Homo sapiens: one gene and its partners. The protein of the gene in region 7 purifies or fractionates together with the protein of the main gene of each other region. This does not show direct contact. Each region holds a gene or a part of one and is shown on either strand. Other genes may lie near its edges. The genes, in order: KLC4, KIF5B, RGPD8, NUP160, TPRKB, CCT6B and NUP43.

Region 1 (3,500 bases), about 110 Mb from region 7:
TGTAGTGAGCCAAGATCGTGCCATGTTGCACTCTAGCCTGGCAACAAGAGTGAAACTCTATCTCAACAAAAAATAAATAACTTTTCAGCTGGGTGTGGTGGCTCACACCTGTAATCCCAGCAGTTTGGAAGGCTGAGGTAGGTGGATCACTTGAGGTCAGGAGTTCAAGACCAGCCTGACCAACATGGTGAAAACCCATCTCTACTAAAAATACAAAAATTAGCCTGGCGTGGTAGCACGTACCTGTAATCCCAGCTACTTGGGAGGCTGAGGCAGGAGGATCACTTGAGCCTGGGAGGCAGAGATTACAGTGAACCCAGATTGTACCACTGCACTATAGGCTGGGTGACACTGCGAAACTCCATCTCAAAAAACAAAACAAAACAAAACAAAACAAACAAACTTTTCATTTTTCATTTTCTGTACATTGACAACTCTATCATTTGCCTTGGCGTGATATCTCTACTTAAGGTTGTTTCTCTCTTTCCTTTTATTTATATTTATTTATTTATTTATTTATTTTAAGATGAAGTCTCACCCCATCACCCAGGTTGAAGTGCAATGGTGCGATCTTGGCTCACTGCAACCTCAGCCTCCTGGGTTCAAGCAATTCTCCTGTCTCAGCCTCCCGAGTACCTGGGACTACAGGTGCATGCCACCACAACTGGCTAATTTTTGTATTATTAGTAGAGACAGGGTTTCACCTTGTTGGTCAGGCTGGTCTCAAACTCCTGACCTCAGGTGATCCGACCACCTCGGCCTCCCAAAGTGCTGAAATTACAGGAGTGAGCCACAGCGCTGGGCCGCTTCTTATTTTGTTGAGACAGAGTCTTGCTCTGTTGCCCAGGCTGGAGTGCAGTGGTGCGATCTCGGCTCGCTGCAACCACCAACCCCCGGATTCAAATGATTCTCCTGCCTCAGTCTCCAAATAGTTGGGATTACAGGCATATGCCACCATGCCTGGCTAATTTTATATTTTTTTTTTAGTAGAGACGGGGTTTTACCATGTTGGCCAGGATGGTCTCAAACTCCTGACCTCAGGTGATCGACCTGCCTTGGCCTCCCAAAGTGGTGGGATTACAGGCGTGAGCCACCAAGCCCAGTCTCTTCCTCTTATACACAAATAAATCTGGTCTGTCATTTATTTTCTTTTTTTTTGAGACAGAGTTTTGCTCTTGCTGCCCAGGCTGGAGTGTAGAGGCGCGATCTCACCTCACTGCAACCTCCACCTTCTGGTTTCGAGTGATTCTCCTGCCTCAGCCTCCTGAGTAGCTGGGATTACAAGTGCCCCCCACCACGCCCGGCTAATTTTTGTATTTTTAGTAGAGACGGGGTTTCACCATGTTGGCCAGGATGGTCTTGAACTCCTGACCTCGTGATTTGCCCACCTTGGCCTCCCAAAGTGCTGGGATTACAGGCATGAGCCACTGTGCCCGACCCTTGTGATTTCTTATAATACTGTACTTTAATAAAGTGTCCACCTATATTTTCTTTTTTTTTTTTTTTTTTTTTTTTTTTTGAGACGGAGTCTCGCTCTGTCGCCCAGGCTGGAGTGCAGTGGCGGGATCTCGGCTCACTGCAAGCTCCGCCTCCCGGGTTCACGCCATTCTCCTGCCTCAGCCTCCCAAGCAGCTGGGACTACAGGCGCCCGCCACTACGCCCGGCTAATTTTTTGTATTTTTAGTAGAGACGGGGTTTCACCGTTTTAGCCAGGATGGTCTCGATCTCCTGACCTCGTGATCCGCCCGCCTCGGCCTCCCAAAGTGCTGGGATTACAGGCGTGAGCCACCGCGCCCGGCCTGTCCACCTATATTTTCATTTTTTTTTTTTTTTTTTGAGACGGAGTCTCGCTCTGTCACCCTGGCTGGAGTGCAATGGCACGATCTCAGCTCACTGCAAGCTCCGCCTCCCGGGTTCACGCCATTCTCCTGCCTTAGCCTCCCGAGTAGCTAGGACTACAGGCGCCCGCCACCACGCCCGGCATTTTTTGTATTTTTTTTAGTAGAGATGGGGTTTCACCATGTTAGCCAGGATGGTCTCGATCTCCTGACCTCGTGATCCACCCTCCTCAGCCTCCCAAAGTGCTGGGATTAGTGCTGGGATTACACTCGTGAGCCACTGTGCCCAGGCCACTTTGCTATTTCTTTTAACAAAGTTGTACTCAATACAACTACTGTTGTTTTGTATTTTTACCTTATTATATTACATTGTATATATTGTCCTTACAAATTACTTTTCTTGTTTTTCTTTTATATTTATTAGAGTAGCATATTAAGTTTTGTAGAAATCATATGTGGATTTACCTATGACTTATCTATTAATTAAATTCAAGCAAAATATTTGTTATAAAAAGGAGTCACTGAGTCTCAGAGAATTGAGAATCATTAGGATCACTGGACAGTGCCTGGAAGAAAGGACTTCTTATGCCTCCTTCCTCAGCACCCTTAGTGAGTGGACTGAGGGCAGCAGATGGATGAGCTAAGAGAGGCCAAAACAGCAATGGTGGGGGGTGCGGGGCGTGGGGTGGGGAGGGCAAGGAATACTGACAGCAGGATGGTCAGGTCCCAAGGTGCTCTCCCGGATGCTAAGGGCATCATTCAGCAGGTGGGCAGCTTCCTTATACTTATTCTGGTCACTGGAAGAAGACAAAAGTGACAGGAGTTACCCTGAACCCGCAAGCCTTCTCCTTCCCTCCTTCCCTTTGGAAGGACTGAGTACATTTAAGGATTGGAGACCTCCATGAGGAGACAGGAAGCCTGGCGTGGACAGTAAGGGGGCTTCACTGACATACTCATACCAGAATGCAGGGCACTGCCATCCCAAGAGGAGGCCACAAGTTATAAGAAGCAAGGGGGCAGGGGGAAGAGAGGGAGAGAGCACTCCCCAGAAGAGAGATTAGAGGAACAAGGATCCCAAGGGATGAGCAAATGCTTAGGTATGGGAAAAGTGAGAGTTCTGGCACATAAAGAAGCACCCTGTTGGGGTGTATCTGGGAGGCCCAACAGGGAGGAGAGGTACCCTGTAAAGAGGAAAAATGAAAGCCAAAGGAGGACCAAGGTGGGAATGTGGGGGAAGATCTGGGCACTGGAGGAGGGAAGTCCTCACCGATACACCAAAGCAAGGATGTTGAGCATGGTGGCGACATCAGGGTGGCCACGGCCTGATGTGCGCTCCAGGTCCTCTAGTGCCTGCTTACAGAGTGGCACGGCCACCTCATAGCGACCTTGGGCTGCGTACTGGATCACCAGGTTGTGCAACGTCCGCAACCTTGCTGGGATCTCATATCCACCCTGCTGAGCTGCTGTAGCACCTTGACCACGGGACACTAAACCATCACAGAACATAAACAAAGGACTCTTCCTCTCCCCTTTGCTGTCTGCCCTTCCACTCCCCATTGCATGTCTTGTTCCATACTTGTGCCCACCCCAACCTGGACTCTCAATATTAGACCTGCCTCAAGTGCTATTCTTTTATCCACTCCCTTGACCTATGCCCATCAC
Region 2 (3,500 bases), on a different chromosome or scaffold from region 7:
TTAAATTTAGAATAATCATGGTAGAAAAAACCCACAAAATATTTCCCAATCCTGTTTATTTTCATGTTTTTCTTACCACTGTCTCTTCCAAACCCTTCAAGTCTTGTCTTGCTTGTTCTCGTCTATCTTGCATAACCCTAACAGTAGAAGAACAAACATATATTTTCAAATTTTATTCTGTATATTGTACTTAGCATGAGAGTTGAATAAAATATTTTGTGTCTGAAAGGATAAATTCTTAAATTTAAATAAATACAAGATGCCTATTTTAAACAATTTACCTGTGCTGTCTTTCAAAAAAAAAATTTTTTTTTTTTTGACACAGAGTTTCTGTCCCAAACACTGCTCACTGCAACCTCAACCTCCTGGGCTCAAGTGATCCTCCTCACCTCGTCTCCCAAATAGCTGGGACTACAGGCATGTACAATCAGCCCTGTCTAAAAAAATTTTTGTAGAGACGGGGTCTCACTATATTGCCTAGGCTGATTCTCAAACACTGGGCTCAACTGATTCTCCTGCCCTGGCCTCCCAAAGTGCTGAGATTATGGGTGTGAGCCACTGCAGCTTTGCAATTTCAAAAAATTTTCATATGCCTTCTAAACAACAGTCTATTGTTATACATTCCATATATAGCAATGGAAGAGATGAAATAAAATGTGGCAGAATTCAAAGAATAAGGAATAGTTCTATAATTTATATTTTAAAATATGCCACATGTATTATACTGCTATTTATCCAAAATGATACTGATTAATTATAGATTATAAACTGTCAAAGACTAAAATATTTTACATTACAAGTATTCTAAACAAAATTACAGCTGCAAGTTAGCAGAATCTTCATATAATCCACTCTGAACTGGTCCTGATGTTCTAACTATCCTAACAATATCAGTTGATTTGCAAATTGTCTCACAAACTCAAGGTATGTGAAAAATTATAATCATGCACTTTCTACCTGCTAAGATTCTAGAAAACTGAGTTTTGAGAAAATGAGAAAAGGTAAACCATGAAAACCTCTGTTCAAAATGGCAAGGCTAAACACCACAATGCTCTTTTATGCAAGAGAAAATTTAACAAAAACTCAGTTTTTGTGTTAGATCTTAAAATCTTCGAAGTTACTTAATATATTGTTTTAGGTTCATTTTTATGCTGGATCCTGAAGTAATATGGAGATAAAGAAACAGCAAGCAGATTAATAAAGAGAAACCTTAATCTTAACCACAATGAAATATAAGACCTTGCTTTCACTCAAATGCAAGTATATATTCCAAGTATTTAGATATAAATCAAACCAACTCAGTGGATTTAAGAAAAAATCCTTTAGCCCATACAAAGTAAAATATGTATCCACTGGCTATATCCAAAGGTAATGCCTATAATCCTCTAATTTAGCTTTTATTTTTAAACTTTAATTAAAAACAATTACTCACGTAAGTTCATGTAGTTTTCTGCTCTTTTCCTGATCTGTGGCTTTCAACTTCTCATGTTCTACTCTTAGACGTTCCTGCTCTAACATCATTTTCTGGTTTTGGCTGACGAAAGAAAAAAATAATTAACACAGTATCAATATCACAGTTTTCTCAATGTCATCATTAAAATTTCCAAACTTTTAAATTCTATAATCTCATCAAGGACTTTTCTGTTATCCTATACCCTATGGAGGAAAAGAGGAAAGGGACCTGGCTACTTGTGGACATACAAAATTTTTCGTATTTTGGTTTGAAATCATGATTCTGTTCTCCTCTGTCTTTCATCTTCCTGAATCCTTATGCCTACTTCCATCAGGTATTCATAGTAAGACCTACGCCCCAAACCTCATCATTATTTTGTTATGTTATTCTCTTCTTGGTTCCTACTCAAATTGTTGCAAACTCTGACTTCCATAAACTCTATGTATGTGCACATGGTTATGGAGGCAGGGAAATTGCTTCTAGATAAACTAAGATGACAACTTAAAAAAAAAAAAACCTTTGAAAATCCATAGAATTTCCAGAAAAGTTTTTCCCAGTTAAGAATTTTGAGTCAGGGTCTCGCTCTGTCACCCAGGCTGTAGTACAATCATAGCTCACTTCAGCCTCAGATTCCAATACTCAAGCAATCCTCGTGCCACAGCCTCCTGGGTCACTGGGACTACAGGCATGTGCCACCAAGCTCAGCTAATTTAAAAAATTATTTTTTGTAGAGATGGAGTCTCACTATGTTGCCCAGCTGGTCTTGAACTCCTGACTTCTAGTGATCCTCCCACCCCAGCCTCCCAAAGCACTGGGGTCACAGGCCATCAGCCACTGCACCCAGCCAAGAATTTTTTTAAAAAAGGAAACTAAATAAAGGATTTGGAGAAGACTGTGGTATGCAATAATAGACTTAGGTTGGGGATTTTTTTCTTTTACTGAATAATTTAGATCAAAAGACCTAAAAAAAAGCCTCAAAAATTTCACCTGGAATTTAGAAGTTTTACTCATAAATGAGAAAATTCTTTATTTTCCAAGATAAAAATGTAATTTTGATGAAAACTGCAGGTTTCTAATAAGAATATATACCATGACCATCAGTAACCGATTCTTTCCTCCTAACTAGAGAAGTATAATACTTACTCTTGAAGATCAGTAATAAGTTTTGCTTTTGCTTCTACTTCATCTCTCAAACTACTGATCTGTTTTTGATGAGTTTCTCTATGGCTCTGGATCTGCTGTTCAACAGCTTGCTAAAATTTTGGGGGGGAAAAGGATGTTAAAGTCAGACTAATCAAAATTAATACTGATTAATTAAAGCTGTTAGAAATGTGACATCAAACTTGCCTTAACTTCATTTGCAGTCTGAACCTTATTTAAGTGCTCCTTTTCCATTTCATGGACTTTCTCTGTTTGAATAGAGAGAAAATAGAAGAGTGAAATAAGCCTTTAAGGTTCCTCATATAAACCAAGGAGCAAATGGATTTTACAATAAGCATTTTCCTTAGCAATATTCAACTTCAAATTACCCAAATGTCACCTGCTCTCCAAGTTCAATGACATGTAGACTAGTATACAAGTTACATCCATTGTGTTGGTATTATGTATTCCTTTATGGTTTGTTTGGTTTTTTTTTTTTTGGCCTAATCCAGAACAGATTAGTTAAGGGAATGGTAAAGAAATGAGATAACTCCTAAGTCCCCTATGTTAAGACACACACACACACACACCCCGCTTCGTAACTGTGGGAAATCCCCAGATTGGCTATTTCCATATTCAAACAAAATCTTAAAAATATATATATATATGTTTTGACAGGCACAGTGGCTCATGCCTGTAATCCCAGCACTTTGGGAGGCCAAGGCAGGCAGATCACGAGGTCAGGAGATCAAGACCATCCTGCGTAACACGGTGAAGCCCTGTCTCTACAAAAAAGGTAAAAAATTAGCCAGGCGTGGGGGCATGTGCCTGTGGTCCTAGCTACTAGGGAGGCTGCAGCAGGAGAATCACTGGAACCCAGGAGGTGGAGGTTGCAGTGAGTCAAGAT
Region 3 (3,500 bases), on a different chromosome or scaffold from region 7:
TTATTATGTATATAATAATACGTCCAATGCACTTAAACTCTTAATTTTTACACCATCTACACTGTTAGGTAAACAATATTAGCTCCTATCTTAAAATGAGAGAAACGGATGCAGGGAATAACAGCTGGAATTTGAAACACATCTGACTCCAAAAATGTTTTCTTAACACAACTCTGCTGCCTTGACAAGATGGCAGATAGATCCAATGCCGTCTAGTGTAGCTATGTGGCTACCTGATCTCTGCTGAAGAAAACTAAATGACAGCACCATACCCAACACCCTAGAACCTACAAAATGTCCCCTTACAAAACAGACACTTAACAGGAAATTCTTTTTCCAAAGAAATTGTAGTGGTATCAGAAAACAGGTAAATTTTGAAAAGTTTCAAACTTCTCTGTATCAGCCCAGGAATCCGATCAGTTCTAACAAGTGAGGTCAGGGACAGATCTAGCATGTCTGCTTTCTGTTTCTACAAGTGTTTCAATTAAAAATTTCCCAGAAAGACCTAACCATGAGGTCCAAAACTATCTCAATTTTCAAGCTAAATAAAATTTCCCCCATTCATCCATCTACAGTGCCTAGTCCAGATGCTACACATACACATCCAAGAAATAAGAAACTAGTGGAATCACCTAGAAAACTTTATAGTCACTGTTGGTATCCGCACCAGAGCTTTGAATTTGCAATCACTGCTGTAACTGTAATTTTTAACATTCAGTGTGATGAGAACTGGCTTCAATAATTCTCTCATTTTAAAGATAAGAAGCCAAACAGTCACAAAGGAAGTGACTGGCCCAAGATCATTAATTAATGGCAGAGTCAGTACTAGTACCAAGCTTTTCAAGCTCATGGACTAGTGCTCCACTATACTTCCACAGAATACAATGTTGGGAGCCTGAAACCTGTATGTTAAGTCAAAATTGTATGTAATTGTCATAGGCCACGACTACACAGAATTAACATTCAAAATTTTTGTGCAAATTCAAAAATGTCTTCCCCACCAAATAGTATTCTCTTAATTTGCAAATGCTGCTGATCACACTGTAATAATCGCCACACATCAGCATATCCTTGATGTAACTTTAGCAGTATGAGTAATTTAGTTCTTGCTTGATAAACATGAAAGAACCTACTTTTATTTCCAATTCCAAAAAAGTCAAGCTCCTTTGAACCCTATTGTTAAAATAAGATATATATACATAACTATTTCCTTACATAATTAAGTCAAATTCATATGGAAGTATTAAAATATAGTAAGACTTTTTGAAGCTCAGACCACTTTTCGATTCCTAGCTATACATTTGAAACACATGTAATCCACAGCTAATCTGGGAATGAACTCATAGACCAGAGTATGATTAGTACATTGTAGCACTTCAATCACTCGGGAACCTTCTCTGTGTCAGGAACTCTTATATTTTAAATAAAACAGTTTCTACCTTTGAAGGTCTCAAATTTTGTGGAAGATGAGGAGAGAGACACATAAAGTACTTTCAAAAATATGGTAAAGGGCTGGGTGCGGTGGTTTACACCTGTAATCCCAGCACTTTGGGAGGCCAAGGTGGGCAGATCACCTGAGGTCAGAAGTTCAAAACCAGCCTGGCCAACATGGTGAAACTCTGTGTCTACTAAAAATACAAAAATTAGCTGGGCCTGGTGGCGGGTGCCTGTAATCCCAGCTACTCGGGAGGCTGAGGCAGGAGAGTCACTTGAACCTGGGAGGTGGAGGTTGCAGTGAGCCAAGATCACACCATTGCACTCCAGACTGGGCAACAGAGTGAGACTCCATCTCAAAACAAAACAAAACAAAATATGGTAAAGGGTCAAGACCGAGGTATGTAGGCTGGGCACAGTGGCTCACACCTGCAATCCCAGCACTTTGGGAGGCTGAAGCAGGAGGATTGTTTGAGCCAGGAGTTCAAGGCCACCCTGGGCAACATGGCAAAATCCCATCTCTACAAAAAATACAACAATTAGCTGGGCCTGGTGGCATGTGACTGTCTGTAGTCCTGGCTTCGTGGCAGGCTGAGCCAAGAGGCTCTCTTGAGCTAGGAGGTTGAAGCCGCAGTAAGCTGTGATCATACCACTGTACTCCAGCCTGCACAACAGAACAAGACCCTTGTCTTAAAAAAAAAAAAAAAAGACCAAAATGTCCCCTTGCCATACTATTTGGATGGCAAGGGGACATTCTGACCAGCTTCAGAAAAAAAGTGAGAGAGTAGCCAGGGAAGGAATCTTGGAATAAAAAGTACAGCTAGAGAAATTAAGTGACTTACCTTAATGGCCTCTACTTGTTGGCAAATCATATTCAGTAAAGAATTCCGATCTTCTGTCCATCGAGGTGGTGTTTCGGGAGAATACTGAAAAAAAAAATAAAAATAACAAAACAGCATTTAAAACACTTAGAACAGAAACAATTTCACAATGAAATGATTCCATTCTTTCCTGTTTACCTTGTAACTTTTACTTGGTGATAGTGAATATTTGGTAGGAGACGGTGTAGAATGTTTTATTTCTGAATCTGCATTTCGCAAAGAACCATTTTTATAGAGAGGACCTCCTTCACTATAGTCTTCGAGTTCCTGCATGACTGAATTAAGCATCTGTTTTACAGACTCCAGGGGCACAGGCAACTAAAAATAAAAGACATTAATTAAGGGCTTTCATTTGCAAAAAATTCCAAAAGTAAAAACTCTAAAATGATATATTTTATCTTATTTACATTTTTGTCACTTTAATAAGCACTTTACACTTTAAATAATAATACACGTGAAAGTGTTTTTTAATTATCTTTTTTCTTTGTTTTTCTGTTGTTTTGTATTATTATTTTTATTTTTTTGTCTTTATTCTATTTTTTTCTTCAGGAACACAGAAAAGTGTTGTACAGTCTAACATCTTCTGATTCTAAAGTCCATGCTCTTTCTATTACTTCTGTTAACCATGATAATTGTAGAGGAATGTTAACTTGGAAAGCTTTTCCAAGTGAACAAAATAAGTTACTGATGTTTTCTAACTGATTTTCAATGGTGACAGAAATACAGATGCTACAATACACCAGACAACATAAATCCTAATAAAAGAGTAGTAACACAAATTAATCAACAAAACACTCAGAAGACTGAACATAATTTAACATCATCATGACAATCTCAAACAGCTGACAGCAAGAAAACAAGGGCGTTCATAATGGCTGATGACGATGAGAAGAAATGCTCTTAAGTTGTCAGCAACAACTTTCAATTTCAGCAAAGTTCATTAAGAATTAGTCCTGAGGTTATAATATTTGTTTTGATTACACTGCTAAGATAACAAAATCAATGTCTTATCTTAGAAATCTTTTCTAATTCCCCAAGAAGTACTTTTTAAGAGCATATACCTAGATTCCCAAGTTTAAAAAGACACACCAAACCTAAGACAAAGCAAGCAAATCTAAGCATTTAGACACACGCATCCCTTCTGTGCATTAATAACAACATATTACTGAGTATTTTTGAAATTAC
Region 4 (3,500 bases), on a different chromosome or scaffold from region 7:
CCATGCCCGGCTAATTTTTGTATTTTTTTGTAGAGATGAGGGTTTGCCCAGACTGGTCTCAAACTTCTAGGCTCAAGCAACCAGGCCACCTTGGCCTCCCAAAGTGCTGGGACTATAGGTATGAGCCACCACATCTGGCCTTTTTCTTACTCTTGCTTGAAATTCTACCATTAGCGATGTATCTGGGTTTATAATTTCTTTTTTTTTTTTTTTGGAGACAGAATCTCGCTCTGTCACACACGCTGGAGTGCAGTGGTGCAATCTTGCCTCACTGCAAACTCTGCCTCCTGGGTTCAAGTAATTCTCATGCCTTAGCCTCCTGAATGGCTGGGATTACAGGAGTGTGCCACCAGACCCCGCTAACTTTTTTGTTTTAATAGACATGGAGTTTGGCCATGTTGGCCAGGCTGGTCTCGAACTCCTGGCCTCAAGTGATCTGCCCACCTCAGCCTCGCAAAGTGCTGGGATTACAGGTGTGAGCCACTGTGCCCAGCCTGAGTTAATACATTCTGACTTAAAATGTATAAGTACATTTATACATTTTAAGTCAGAATTAAAATGGGAGCCCCAAAGGACTTTTGGCTATTTACACATTAATATGAATTGGTTTAATTAGATTCCTTCTTTGACAGGCTCAAATGAGATTACTGACTTAGAAAAAAATGGGATGTCTGACTGTGGGGAGAAAAATAATTTCTTAGCATGGGACATTCAGTAGGGTGGGTGATTAGGACTATATATTAGCAACAAGAGTCTGGTGGTCTAAGAAGAACAGAATGAAAAAGAAAGCACAGAATAGAGTTAGGAGGACCACAAAGATAAACCTGCATCTCAAAACTGTGTTTAGGGTAAGCCTTGCACTGTAGAGAGTTCTTAGGTTGGGCAAGGTGGCTCATGCCTGTAATCCCAGCACTTTGGGAGGCCGAGGTAGGTGGATCACCTGATGTCAGGAGTTTAAGATCAGCCTGGTCAACATGGTGAAACCCTGTCTCTACTAAAAATACAAAAATTAGCCGGACACGGTGGCACGCACCTGTAATCCCAGCTACTCAGGAGGCTGAGGCAGGAGAATTGCTTGAGCTGAGATAAGGCCACCACACTCCAGCCTGGGCAACAGAGCAAGATTGTCTCAAGAAAAAAAAAAAAAGAGAGAGAGACAGGAAAAAAAAAGAGTTTTCTTTTTCTTCCTCCATACTAAAGGGTATGCTTACCACATTCATAGTTACTAATAATACTACATTTTGGGAGAGCCAACTTGGGAAAATTTTCCACTACTACACATACAAAGGTTAAGAGTAAAGCAATCTGCTTCATGTATGTTTTTTAAAATCTACTGTTAAGTTCCAGGGTACATGGGCAGGATGTGCAGGTTTGTTACGTAGGTAAACGTGTGCCATGATGGTTTGCTGCACAGATCAACCCAACACCTAAGTATTAGGCCCAGGATCCATTAGCTATTCTTTCTGATGTTCTCCCTCCCCACCGTCCCCTCCATATATGCTCTTAATCTATACTCTCACAAGGATTACAATGCTTATTCATTCTTAATTCAAAAATATTTATAGAGCATCTCATAAGGCCAAGCTTGGGAGAATAAAGCAGTGAACCAAGACAAAAGTATCTGTGCTAGTAGGGCTGACATTTTGCTCCTAAGTGCTTGTAGGCCTATAACAGGTTTTAGATTTTACAAGTTTTCCCTCAAGCAGTACTTACAGCATCTCCAAGCCTCATTAACAGCTGCTGTAAGATCAAAAGATCTCTGCAGATCAGGAAACGAGTACTGGCGATTTTATGCACCCCTCTGCACACAATATACCCTGCTGTGTTACTACCATAGAGCTGGGTAAGATTCATTCGAATATTCAAAGGCTGAGCTGTAAAAAGAAGAAAAATGGAGTTGAATGCATCATTGTTTTAATCAAAGAGGCACATTTGTTGTTCTGTCATTTACCTGGATTGAATCCCTTTTCCATTTCCACTTCTGTTTCATAATCCATTTCCCGTATAAGTAGTCCAATTGCATGGATTGGGTTCCTAATCTCTTGCAGTTTACTACAAATATCCTCCATCACATTTTCTCTATAAGGACAATTACAAAACTCTTATTACTACCGAGAATACGTAAGGCAAGTTCTATATGTCCTATAAGCTAAATACATTATGAAACAAGAGAACCAGATAAAGGAATGAAGATAATCACTCTGGCATATAAGATACAGTCCCTATGCATAGCAAATTTCCTCTCAGTTTTTCATAAACAACACACAAAACAAACATGAGAAGAACACTTTTGCTTTTTAGAATTTTTAGCTCGGTTAATTGTTAAAGCATATTTTATAAGTCTATTTCTAGACTTGAAGTCGTGTTAAATTTTCTGTTAAAAGTAGAAATATGTACTTAGAATCATGGCGCATCAGTTTGACTTTAAGCTACTATTCTGTACGCTCTGGAACATACATTAAAATTCCAACTTTGGCGCTAAAAATGCTGAATTTCCATTAGGAAATGCACTTTACCCTAATTCTCCTTACACATCAATAGTGATCATATCTTCCAGAATCTGCTCTGCAGCCTTTTCCGGAGACTGTAGGTTATAACAACTCATTTCCATTATAACTGACATATCCACAGTTACTGACTCTTCAATCAGCCGGAGGCATTTTATAAGACATATGACATCCCGAGCGATGTCCACATCTACAAATAAGAGAAAGTTAACATTTATGTCTTAAGCCAATGACAATCTATTGATTGATATTACATTAAAATGTTAATAATTAAATGACAAGAAATCTATCTGAGGTCTCAGAGATGCTTTGGTCTCTTAAGTGTTCATTAAAATATTTGTGGTGTGGTAAAGTGACCAAGACAGGTGTGGCAATCGATATTTTTTGTATCCATGTGAAACGAAGCATAGGGTTTATATAGGAAGGGGATTAAATATGGACATAACAATTACTATTACCATCAGATATGGTTGTCTCATCTTCTGTCAAAAGGTTCTCATAAGGCAGGAGATACAAATGATCCACTAAGGATGAGGGAATAAGGAAAGACAGGTACCCCTGGAAATACAAATTTTCCAGTTACATTTTTGTCAGTAAAATTTTAAAGGTATAAAATAATTGAGATGTGCATCTTATCATGAGGCAAACCCAAGTTGCAATACACTCTATAAAATAATAGGTGTAAGTCTTGGCTGGGCACAGTGGCTCACATCTGTGATCCCAGCAGTTTGGGAGGCTGAGGTGGGAGGATCACTTGAGCCAAGGAGTTCAAGACCAGCCTGGGCATCATGATGAAACCCCATCTCTAAAAAAAAAAAATTAGCCAAGTGTGGTGGCACACAGCTTTAATTCTAGCTGCTAGGGAGGCTGGGGTGGGAGGATCACCTGAGCCTGGGAGGTTGAAGCTGCAGTGAGCCTTAAGAGTGCCACTGGGCCGGGCGCAGTGGCTCACGCCTGTAATCCCAGCACTTTGGGAGGCTGAAGTGGGTGGAT
Region 5 (2,486 bases), on a different chromosome or scaffold from region 7:
GTTTTATCATTTAGATTTCTGTCAGCTTCTCAAGCAAAAATACTTGAGGGGTCTTCCTGACCCTATATGGTAAGAACAGATAAAATTAACCTCGCTTAATTTAGCTAAATTTTTGTTTACTCATATGTAAACTGTCTTAGTAAGAGGCAGGGTTAAACCTCAACTCTCTGTCCAGAGCTCTCTTCACTATTATTTGGGTTTATTACTAACCACTGGCTTGCAGGAATTTAGCCTCCAACCCAACACTGAGGAACACATATGTTATTATGACACGGTCAACAGAAATAGGAAAGTGCACATTACATTGTTATTTGGGGAAAGGTTGAAAATAATTTCAGTAGATAGAGTTCTTGTCTTCATTTTTCCCAGTTTGTAGAGGTGAACTGCTTTGTTTGCTGCCACAAGTATCTGAAATGGATCAACAATCTACCAAAGCAAGGAAAAAGAATTAATTACACATGGAGAATCTGCAGTGCCTGAAAACACATGGTAACTCATGGTTAACTCCAGTGTCAAGCTGTTTTACTTCATCACAATTCTTACGGTCTGTATTTTCAAAACTATTATCCCGGCTGGGCACGGTGGCTCACACCTGTAATCCTAGCACTTTGGGAGGCCAAGGTGGGTAGATCACCTGACGTCAGGGTTCAAGACCAGCCTGGCCAACACGGCGAAACCCTCTCTACTAAAAATACAAAAATTAGTCAGGCGTGGTGGCACGCACCTGTAATCCCAGCAACTCAGGAGGCTGAGGCAGGACAATTGCTTGAACCCGGGAGGCAGAGGTTGCCGTGAGCCAAGATCGCGCCATTGCACTCCAGCCTGGGCAACAAGAGTGAAACTGTCTCAAAAAAAAAAAAAACAAAAAACAACTATTATCCCAAGGGCCTGGGTAGTCAGGAAATCACAGAATTTTAAAGCTGCAAGGAACTTATGCAAATAGTAAAATTTTTTTAAATAACATTAATTGAGGGCTAATATTATGGGCATGATCATATTGCAAACATTTTACTTGTAATATTTTCTTTAATCCTCAAAACTACCCTATGAAATTGACACTATTATTAGTAGTAGTAGCAGTAGTAGTAGTATGTAATTGATGAGGAAATTGAGGCAAAGAATGTCTGGGTTTGAATCCCATCTCTGTCACCTATCACCTAGGAAACTTATGCAAGTTCATTAGCATTTTATTTGTTAGAGACCGATGAAACAGTATTCACTCCATAGGCTGTTGTGAAGATTAAGCAAGTTAGTATACGTAAAGCACTTGGAACAATGCTAGGAATGCAGTAAGCACTATATAAAGGTTGGTTATGTCTTGTTCAAAGGCCTAAGTAGTAGGTCTGGGATTAATTCCCGGTAACATGATCGCACTGCGTGTGCCCTGTTTTTTTGTTTTTTTTTTTTTTTGGAGACAGACAGAGTCTCTCGCTCCATTGCCCAGGCTGGAATGCAGTGGCTCAATCTCAATTCACTGTAACCTCCGCCTCCCAGGTTCAAATGATTCTTGTGCCTCAGCCTCCCGAGTAGCTGGGACTACCAGCACACACCACCACACCCAGCTACTTTTTGTATTTTTAGTAGAGACACGGTTTCACTATGTAGGCCAGGCTGGTCTCAAACTCCGGGCCTCAAGCAATCCACCCACCTTGGCCTCTGTGTGTACTCTTAACCACTACACTATTCCTCCTCTACAGACTGTCTTGTTAGGAACCCCCATTTTAAAGATGAGAAGCTGGAGATCCAGGCATTTCCCATATTAGACCCAGACCACAACCTTTCCTATTTCCTAGGGCAGGACCTGGCACTTCTGCCTCTATTCACTGTTATAGTCAAAGTTGGCTGCATCTGACTTGGACAAGAATTTTTTCCCTAACCGTGACAGATTTTTAGGCTACCCTATAACATCACAAATATTAATGTATACTTAAATGCCCTGTATGGCTCATTCATTCTTTTTTTTTTTTTTTTTTTTTGAGGCGGATTCTTGGTCTGTTGCCCAGGCTGGAGTGCAGTGGCACAATCTCGGCTCACTGCAACCTCTGCCTCCCAGGCTCAAGCGATTCTCCTGCCTCAGTCTCCTGAGTACAGGTGCCCACCACCATGCTCAGCTAATTTTTGTATTTTTAGTAGAGACAGGGTTTCACCATATTGGCCAGGCTGGTCTCAAACTCCTGACCTCATGATCTGCCTGCCTCGGCCTCCCAAAGGGCTGGGATTACAGGCGTGAGCTACCATGCCTGGCCATTTTTTTTTTCCAGACAGAGTTTTGCTCGTCGCCCAGGCTGGAGTGCAATGGCGCAATCTTGGCTCACTGCAACCTCTGCCTCCAGGGTTCAAATGATTTTCCTGCCTCAGCCTCCCGAGTAGCTGGGATTATAGGCGCCCGCCACCACGCCCAGCTAATTTTTGTATTTTTAGTTGAGACAGGGTTTCACCATGTTGGCCAGGCTGGTCTTCAACTCCTGACCTCAGATGATCCACCC
Region 6 (3,100 bases), on a different chromosome or scaffold from region 7:
TTCTAGGGAAAGAGAACAGCCAGTGGAAAAGCCAGTGTCTGATGTTTCTGAGGAAGGAGGTGAGAGAGGTGACAGAAGGTCAGATCATGCAGGGGCATTTGGACCAGTCTCAGGACTTTGGCTTTTACTTTAGAGGAGCAGGGAGCAATTTTGAGCAGAGGTGTGACATGGCCTAATTAATTAATTTATGAGACAGTCTCGTTCTATCACCCATGCTGTGGAGTGCAGTGGCACGATCTTGGCTCACTGCAACCTCTGCCTCCCAGGTTCAAGCAATTCTCCTGCCTCAGCCTCCGGAGTAGCTGGGAATATAGGTGTCTGCTGCCACGCCCGGCTAATTTTTGTATTTTTAGTAGAGACAGGGTTTCACCATGTTGGCCAGGCATGTGGCCTAATTATGTTTAAGAGAATCACTCTGGCCACTCTCCACTTTGTAGAGAAGTCAACTGAACAAGTAGAAGGTTGGAGTTGCAATCAACTGTGGTGGAGAATACTGGCTGGAGCAGGTTGTGGGTGAGAGGACATCAGCATTCAGTTTTGGCAGAGTCAAAGTTGAAGCATCTGTAATCTTTTAATTAAAAAAGTTGGATATATGGGTCTGGAGTTCAAGGAAGAGGTCTGGGTTGGAGATTAAAACCTGAGAGTCAGGCCAGGCGCAGTGGCTCACGCCTGTAATCCCAGCACTCTGGGAGGCCAAGGTAGGTGAATCACTAAAGGTCAAGGGTTCAAGACCAGCCTGGCCAACATGGTGAAACCCCATCTCTACTAAAAATGCAAAAATTAGCCGGGGATGGTGGCAGGCCCCTATAATCCCAGCTACTTGGGAGGCTGAGTCAGGAGAATTGCTTGAACCCAGGAGGTGGAGGTTGCAGGGAGCCGAGATGGCACCACTGCACTCCAGCCTGAGTGACAGAGCAAGATCTCTGTCTCAAAAACAAAAACAAAAAACACCAAAAAAAAAAAAAAAAAGAAAGAAAACAAAAAACAAAAACACCCAAAAAACCTTGAGAGTCATCAGATGTGTATGGTTTAAATCTAAAAGTCTGGATGAGATCACCTAGGGATTAAGGGTAGAGAGAAAAGAGGCTGGGACTGAACTTTTGGGTACTCCAACGTTAAGAGGTCAGGGAGGAAGAGGAAGAAGCAGCAAAGTAATCAGAAAAGGAGCCACTAATGCAAAAGAAAGAAAACCAGAAGAGTGTGGTATCCTGGAAGATAACATAGAGTAGGCGGCAGAATGTGATCAACTGTGTTAAATACTGGTAGATGAGGTCTGAGAATCAACCATTGGATTTAACAATATGGAGGTCATTGATGACCTTGACAAAAGTAGTTTTGGTAATGTATTAAATATTTTTAGAAGATATCAATTAATATTAATAGCAAATACTAAGATTTTGGTATGAAAATTGTTTTTACTTTTCAGGTGAGCCAATGGTAGCAGCAGATGCAGGAGTTTGGGATAATTATTGTGTAAAAAAACAACTTCTTCACTCTTGGTAAGTTCATATGAACATAAAGTGAAAGACCTGTAGAGTTATAATTGATAATATTAAGATGAAATTTTTTCTATTATTTTTGTCCCTGTACAGTGGAAAAATTGTCAAGTGTATGAAAGGTGTGGTATTCAGTTATTAGAACTAGCTTCTGTCATTTTATAGTCCATAGTCCCTTTTATATTTTAGATCTAGCAGTGTTAAGTTCTAAGAAAAATTAACCTTACTATTTGAGGGGGAAAGAAAAGGGGAAATTTACTGAAATAATAGCACATGCATGATGGAGAAAATCAAATGATATTGTAAAAATAAGCTCAATTTTGCTGAAATATAAATCAGGAATGCACTTTATCAGCAAAGGAGTTTAAATTATAATACAAAGGGTGACATTTGGGCCAGTGCGGTGGCTCACACCCGTAATCCCAGCACTTTGGGAGGCCGAGGCGGGTGAATCACCTAAGGTCAGGAGTTCGAGACCAGCCTGGCAAACATGGTGAAACCCTGTCTCTACTAAAAATACAAAAATTAGCCAGGCGTGTTGGTGGGTGCCTGTTATCCCAGCTACTCGGGAGGCTGAGGCGGGAGAATTGCTTGAACCTGGGAGGCAGAAGTTGCAGTAAGCTGAGGTCTTGCCATTGCACTTCAGCCTGGGCAACAAGAGTGAAACTCCATCTTGGGAAAAAAAAAAAAGGTGACATTTGTATTTGTATTTATAATAGCCTTGTCTCATAAAACATCATACTAACATCATTAAAGAACAAAGTACCCTACATAGGTAAAGATTGCTGGGGAAAAAAGCTAAGAGTGGGTTAGTAGGCTTTACTCACCCTCTCATCTTTTTCCTTAGCACAGTGATTGCCACCAACATTCTCCTGGTTGATGAAATTATGCGAGCTGGGATGTCTTCTCTCAAATGATGATTGAATTCAAAATCAACCCTTCTAGAAGATGAAATTTAGTACACTTTACATCTGACTACTATTGTGTAGCCTGAGCCATTCTGAATTTCTACACAATAAATGCAGTTTATGTCTTTTGGGTCTTAATAGTCTCAAAAATATTTCATCAAGGTATAAAGAACACAATAAATACTTTTACAGTAAAGGAATAATATTTAAATATTTCCCCAAGAGTCCTAACTCCCCACTCTTTGTTATATGCTATTGCAGTTTTTATAGCATAGGATCTTTATGATACTTAGACCTTTTGACAAGTTTTAATTAACAAAATAGAGGTTTTAGTACACCCAAGTAAATTTCCAATTTATCAGAGGGTATAAATATAGTAGGACAGAATGTTTCATTTTCTCTCAAAATTCTTTCAGTGACTTTTTGCTGCCACTCTTTCCTCTTATAAATATGGCGTGTAGCTTTGGGTTGCATTGTTTATAATATCTGACTCAATTTATTTTGTATATCATTTATTATATTTTATCTGGCTGTTTTTGTATGTATGATCAACAATTTATGCCACTGTGCTAGCTCTGGTAGCTCTCTGTCTAGATGGTGAGATAGAACAGGTCTCATCTGGAAAGAGAATTATTGACACCAATGGTGGGAAATAATTATTTTTGGCTTATAATACAACTGTTCAGTATAGATATT
Region 7 (2,857 bases):
AGTTCCACAAGCTGTCTGTCAATAATACTCTGAAGGCAACCTATTCATCAGCACCAGAATCCCACTGATTTTCTTCCACATGTTCACAATCTTTTGCCATCAGTCATCTATCGGATTCTACAACTGTTTGGGAGTGTCAGGCTAACAAAAGTCAAAACTGGGCATTGACATTAATGGTAGTTTACTGATGTTTCCCCTGCAAATCTCGTATTTTCTGATACTAAAATTTTGCACAGAAGTTGGATTTCAAAAGGCTAATTGCATGTTCTATCTGAAATCTTATAATTATAGTACTTCTACGAAAAAAGATGTCTAGTAACATAAATTGCTTCTGCATCGGTTCCACAAACAAGACAAGGACCTAAAACATCCAAAGTGTTCACAGACAGAGACCTACTGGGAAGTAAGCTTGTGATTTCAATTCGGTCTTTTGCAGGATCAGTGCTGAGCCAGGAGCTAATGACAGACTGGTGAACATTAGCTTGGTTACTAATGCTATGAGACAAAAAAGTACTGCTTCTTCCTCCTGGGAGAAAAAAAGAAAAGGAAGAAATCTTTCAAGATGATTTTTATATTAGTAAACATTCAAACTTCTACTGATATTTAGAAAGGTGATGATATCAATGTGTTTAATTCTCAGAATAATAGGCTAATAATTCCATTATTATACATCACCACTTTGGACCAAAGGCTTATTCAGTGATATTAAATATTCAAATTTCCATGGGATAATATGGATACCAAACTCGAAGTCTTCAGGAAAAGCAGGTGATTTCAACTGACTTTCTGTTCATCTTTTAATGGAAAGTCTCAGAAAGGTAGCAAAACGGCCAGCATACAAGTTGAATAAGGAAAGAAAAAAAAGAAACCAAAAATGTAGGTAATACATGGAAATATAAACTCTTGGGTAATAACAAAATAAAATGATCATGAGAAAGAATTTCTAGACATATTTCTAGATGAACATTTCTAGAAATATATTTCTAAATATATATTTGTTACTATATTTCTTAAAATATAATCGCCTTACCTCAAATCTTTCATTCTTATGCTTTTTAGATAAATGTTCTTACAAGCAGATTAGAACACTACTAGATTATAAGGTTTTATCTCTAACAGCGCACTGTACTTACTATAGAATAAAGTGAGGCAGAGGCAGTATATTTCAATTTTAGTCATTATTCGCAACTTACTTTCCTCTCAACTTGCTGTCATATCAAATAAGTACAAATTTAATTCACTCAACAAATGACTGAGTACCTACTATGTGCCAGGCTCTGTGCTAAGTGCTCTGTGCCAAGTCCCTATGTCTTGAAGCTTAAAGATTAGTACATTTAAAATCTTGCTGATCCTTTAAAATATGGCTGAACTTCCTTCTCTAAGAAAACTTTGAAGACAACCTCTACTTCATGTTTTTCTCTTTCCTTGAACCCTCAGCACTTGTATGTACCATTAATTTACTACTTTATAACAATTCTTATATCCTAATTGAACTATCCATGCCTCTGTCCATGACTAAATATGTCTTAAGAGCAGGATGCATATTTTATATGTTTTACTTTTTCACAGTGTCTAATACTGTGCCTTGCAATAGTAGACACAGAATAAAGTTTTATTTCCAGTCTAACCAAGGTTCCTTAAAAGTAAACTTGCAAGTTCAAGACTGTGCGGTTAGGGGAGGAAGGAAGTAAAAACGAAGTACATACTTAGTTAATCCTTAGATGAAACTGTTTGTTTCTCTGTAGATGAAGTTATAGCATGGACATGCATGCATGCTCCACACATGCTCTCCGCTCCAGAATTTTTCTGAAGAAGTTTTAGAATTTTTTTCCCCTTAGTTTTTCTGTTTATCTTTTACTGCCCCTACATTTTACATTGCTCTTGGACGCTGTAAAGATTAACACATTATTCAAGCCACTGTGATAAGACTCCTTCCTCATCTCCCTGTTTTCCACTTTTCTCCTCCCCCTCCCATAAGTCTAAAGTCCTTATCATGGGCTACAAAGTCCCAGGGCTCCTCAGCCACCAGTCCTTATCTCCCACCACTGTACCCTGCTGCCTGAGCTCCAACCGTGGTGTCCTTGCAGTTCTCTGCCTGTCTCAGGCCCTCAGCATTTGCTGTTTCCTCTGCCTGGAATGCTTTCATGTCACTTATGCCTTCACTTCTCTTAAGTCTCTGCTCAAATGTTCCTTCTGCCAAGTGGCCTCTTCTGACTCTCACTAGAGTAGCTCCCCTCACCCCTGTCTTTATTCTTTATCCTCCTACTCTGCTGTATTCTTCTTCATGGTAATTAGCAGTGTATTTGGCCATGTTATTTTCCTTTTTCTTTTTTTTTGAGATGGAGTCTTGCTCTGTTGCCCAGGCTGGAGTGCAGTGGCGTGACCTTGGCTCACTGCAACCTCCAACTCCCGGGTTCAAGCAATTCTCCTGCCTCAGCCTCCAGAGTAGCTGGGATTACAGGCACCCACCACCACGTTCAGCTAATTTTTGTATTTTTAGTAGACACAGGGTTTCACCATGTTGGACCAGGCTGGTCTTGAACTCCTGGCCTCAGGTCATCTGCCCACCTCGGCCTCCCAAATTGCTGGGATTACAGGTGTGAGCCACCGCGCCCGGCCTCCTTTTCCACTTTGCTGTGCTCCACTATATACTGTAGGAGGTAGAAGTTGGTAAACTCCACTTTCCAGGCTGCTTTGCCATCTGCCATCCAGATGGGCCTTGCCAATAGCAGGTATTAATGGTGGGTGACTGGAAGGCGGAAGGGAGAAGCAGCTCCTTCCTGCTCCAGGTTTCTGGCAACAACACTGGTGGTAGTTTCAGCCTGGTTGAGGGAGCGCCTTTTCTCCTAATTCAGAA

What was found.
Region 1: the proteins of NUP43 (region 7) and KLC4 purify together in Homo sapiens (affinity purification with mass spectrometry; 4 studies listed by BioGRID and IntAct, with this or other methods). This does not show direct contact.
Region 2: the proteins of NUP43 (region 7) and KIF5B purify together in Homo sapiens (affinity purification with mass spectrometry; 3 studies listed by BioGRID and IntAct, with this or other methods). This does not show direct contact.
Region 3: the proteins of NUP43 (region 7) and RGPD8 purify together in Homo sapiens (affinity purification with mass spectrometry; one large-scale study listed by BioGRID and IntAct). This does not show direct contact.
Region 4: the proteins of NUP43 (region 7) and NUP160 purify together in Homo sapiens (affinity purification with mass spectrometry; 7 studies listed by BioGRID and IntAct, with this or other methods). This does not show direct contact.
Region 5: the proteins of NUP43 (region 7) and TPRKB purify together in Homo sapiens (affinity purification with mass spectrometry; 4 studies listed by BioGRID and IntAct, with this or other methods). This does not show direct contact.
Region 6: the proteins of NUP43 (region 7) and CCT6B purify together in Homo sapiens (affinity purification with mass spectrometry; 3 studies listed by BioGRID and IntAct, with this or other methods). This does not show direct contact.

What each region holds. Positions count from the first base shown.
Region 1 is NC_000006.12:43,066,131-43,069,630, reverse strand, and holds part of KLC4 (kinesin light chain 4), read right to left. Parts: intron 3,326-3,500; coding exon 3,106-3,325; intron 2,636-3,105; coding exon 2,548-2,635; coding exon of another isoform or gene 2,479-2,547; exon of another isoform or gene 2,234-2,478; intron 1-2,233.
Region 2 is NC_000010.11:32,018,426-32,021,925, forward strand, and holds part of KIF5B (kinesin-1 heavy chain), read right to left. Parts: intron 2,863-3,500; coding exon 2,801-2,862; intron 2,707-2,800; coding exon 2,597-2,706; intron 1,975-2,596; exon of another isoform or gene 1,535-1,974; coding exon 1,433-1,534; exon of another isoform or gene 138-1,432; coding exon 77-137; exon of another isoform or gene 1-76. UniProt on the Homo sapiens protein: Microtubule-dependent motor required for normal distribution of mitochondria and lysosomes. Can induce formation of neurite-like membrane protrusions in non-neuronal cells in a ZFYVE27-dependent manner.
Region 3 is NC_000002.12:112,395,646-112,399,145, forward strand, and holds part of RGPD8 (RANBP2-like and GRIP domain-containing protein 8), read right to left. Parts: intron 2,634-3,500; coding exon 2,454-2,633; intron 2,361-2,453; coding exon 2,277-2,360; intron 1-2,276.
Region 4 is NC_000011.10:47,810,351-47,813,850, forward strand, and holds part of NUP160 (nuclear pore complex protein Nup160), read right to left. Parts: intron 3,066-3,500; coding exon 2,966-3,065; intron 2,698-2,965; coding exon 2,532-2,697; exon of another isoform or gene 2,517-2,531; intron 2,080-2,516; coding exon 1,952-2,079; intron 1,875-1,951; coding exon 1,714-1,874; intron 1-1,713. UniProt on the Homo sapiens protein: Functions as a component of the nuclear pore complex (NPC). Involved in poly(A)+ RNA transport.
Region 5 is NC_000002.12:73,731,860-73,734,345, forward strand, and holds part of TPRKB (EKC/KEOPS complex subunit TPRKB), read right to left. Parts: intron 846-2,486; exon of another isoform or gene 842-845; coding exon of another isoform or gene 725-841; intron 427-724; coding exon 304-426; intron 1-303. UniProt on the Homo sapiens protein: Component of the EKC/KEOPS complex that is required for the formation of a threonylcarbamoyl group on adenosine at position 37 (t(6)A37) in tRNAs that read codons beginning with adenine.
Region 6 is NC_000017.11:34,927,361-34,930,460, reverse strand, and holds the end of CCT6B (T-complex protein 1 subunit zeta-2), read left to right. Parts: intron 1-1,426; coding exon 1,427-1,499; intron 1,500-2,343; coding exon 2,344-2,413; 3' UTR 2,414-2,600; downstream 2,601-3,100. UniProt on the Homo sapiens protein: Component of the chaperonin-containing T-complex (TRiC), a molecular chaperone complex that assists the folding of proteins upon ATP hydrolysis.
Region 7 is NC_000006.12:149,726,673-149,729,529, forward strand, and holds part of NUP43 (nucleoporin Nup43), read right to left. Parts: exon of another isoform or gene 2,847-2,857; coding exon of another isoform or gene 2,818-2,846; exon of another isoform or gene 1,889-2,817; coding exon of another isoform or gene 1,848-1,888; exon of another isoform or gene 1,808-1,847; intron 1,807-1,807; coding exon of another isoform or gene 1,718-1,806; exon of another isoform or gene 527-1,717; coding exon 297-526; 3' UTR 1-296. UniProt on the Homo sapiens protein: Component of the Nup107-160 subcomplex of the nuclear pore complex (NPC). The Nup107-160 subcomplex is required for the assembly of a functional NPC.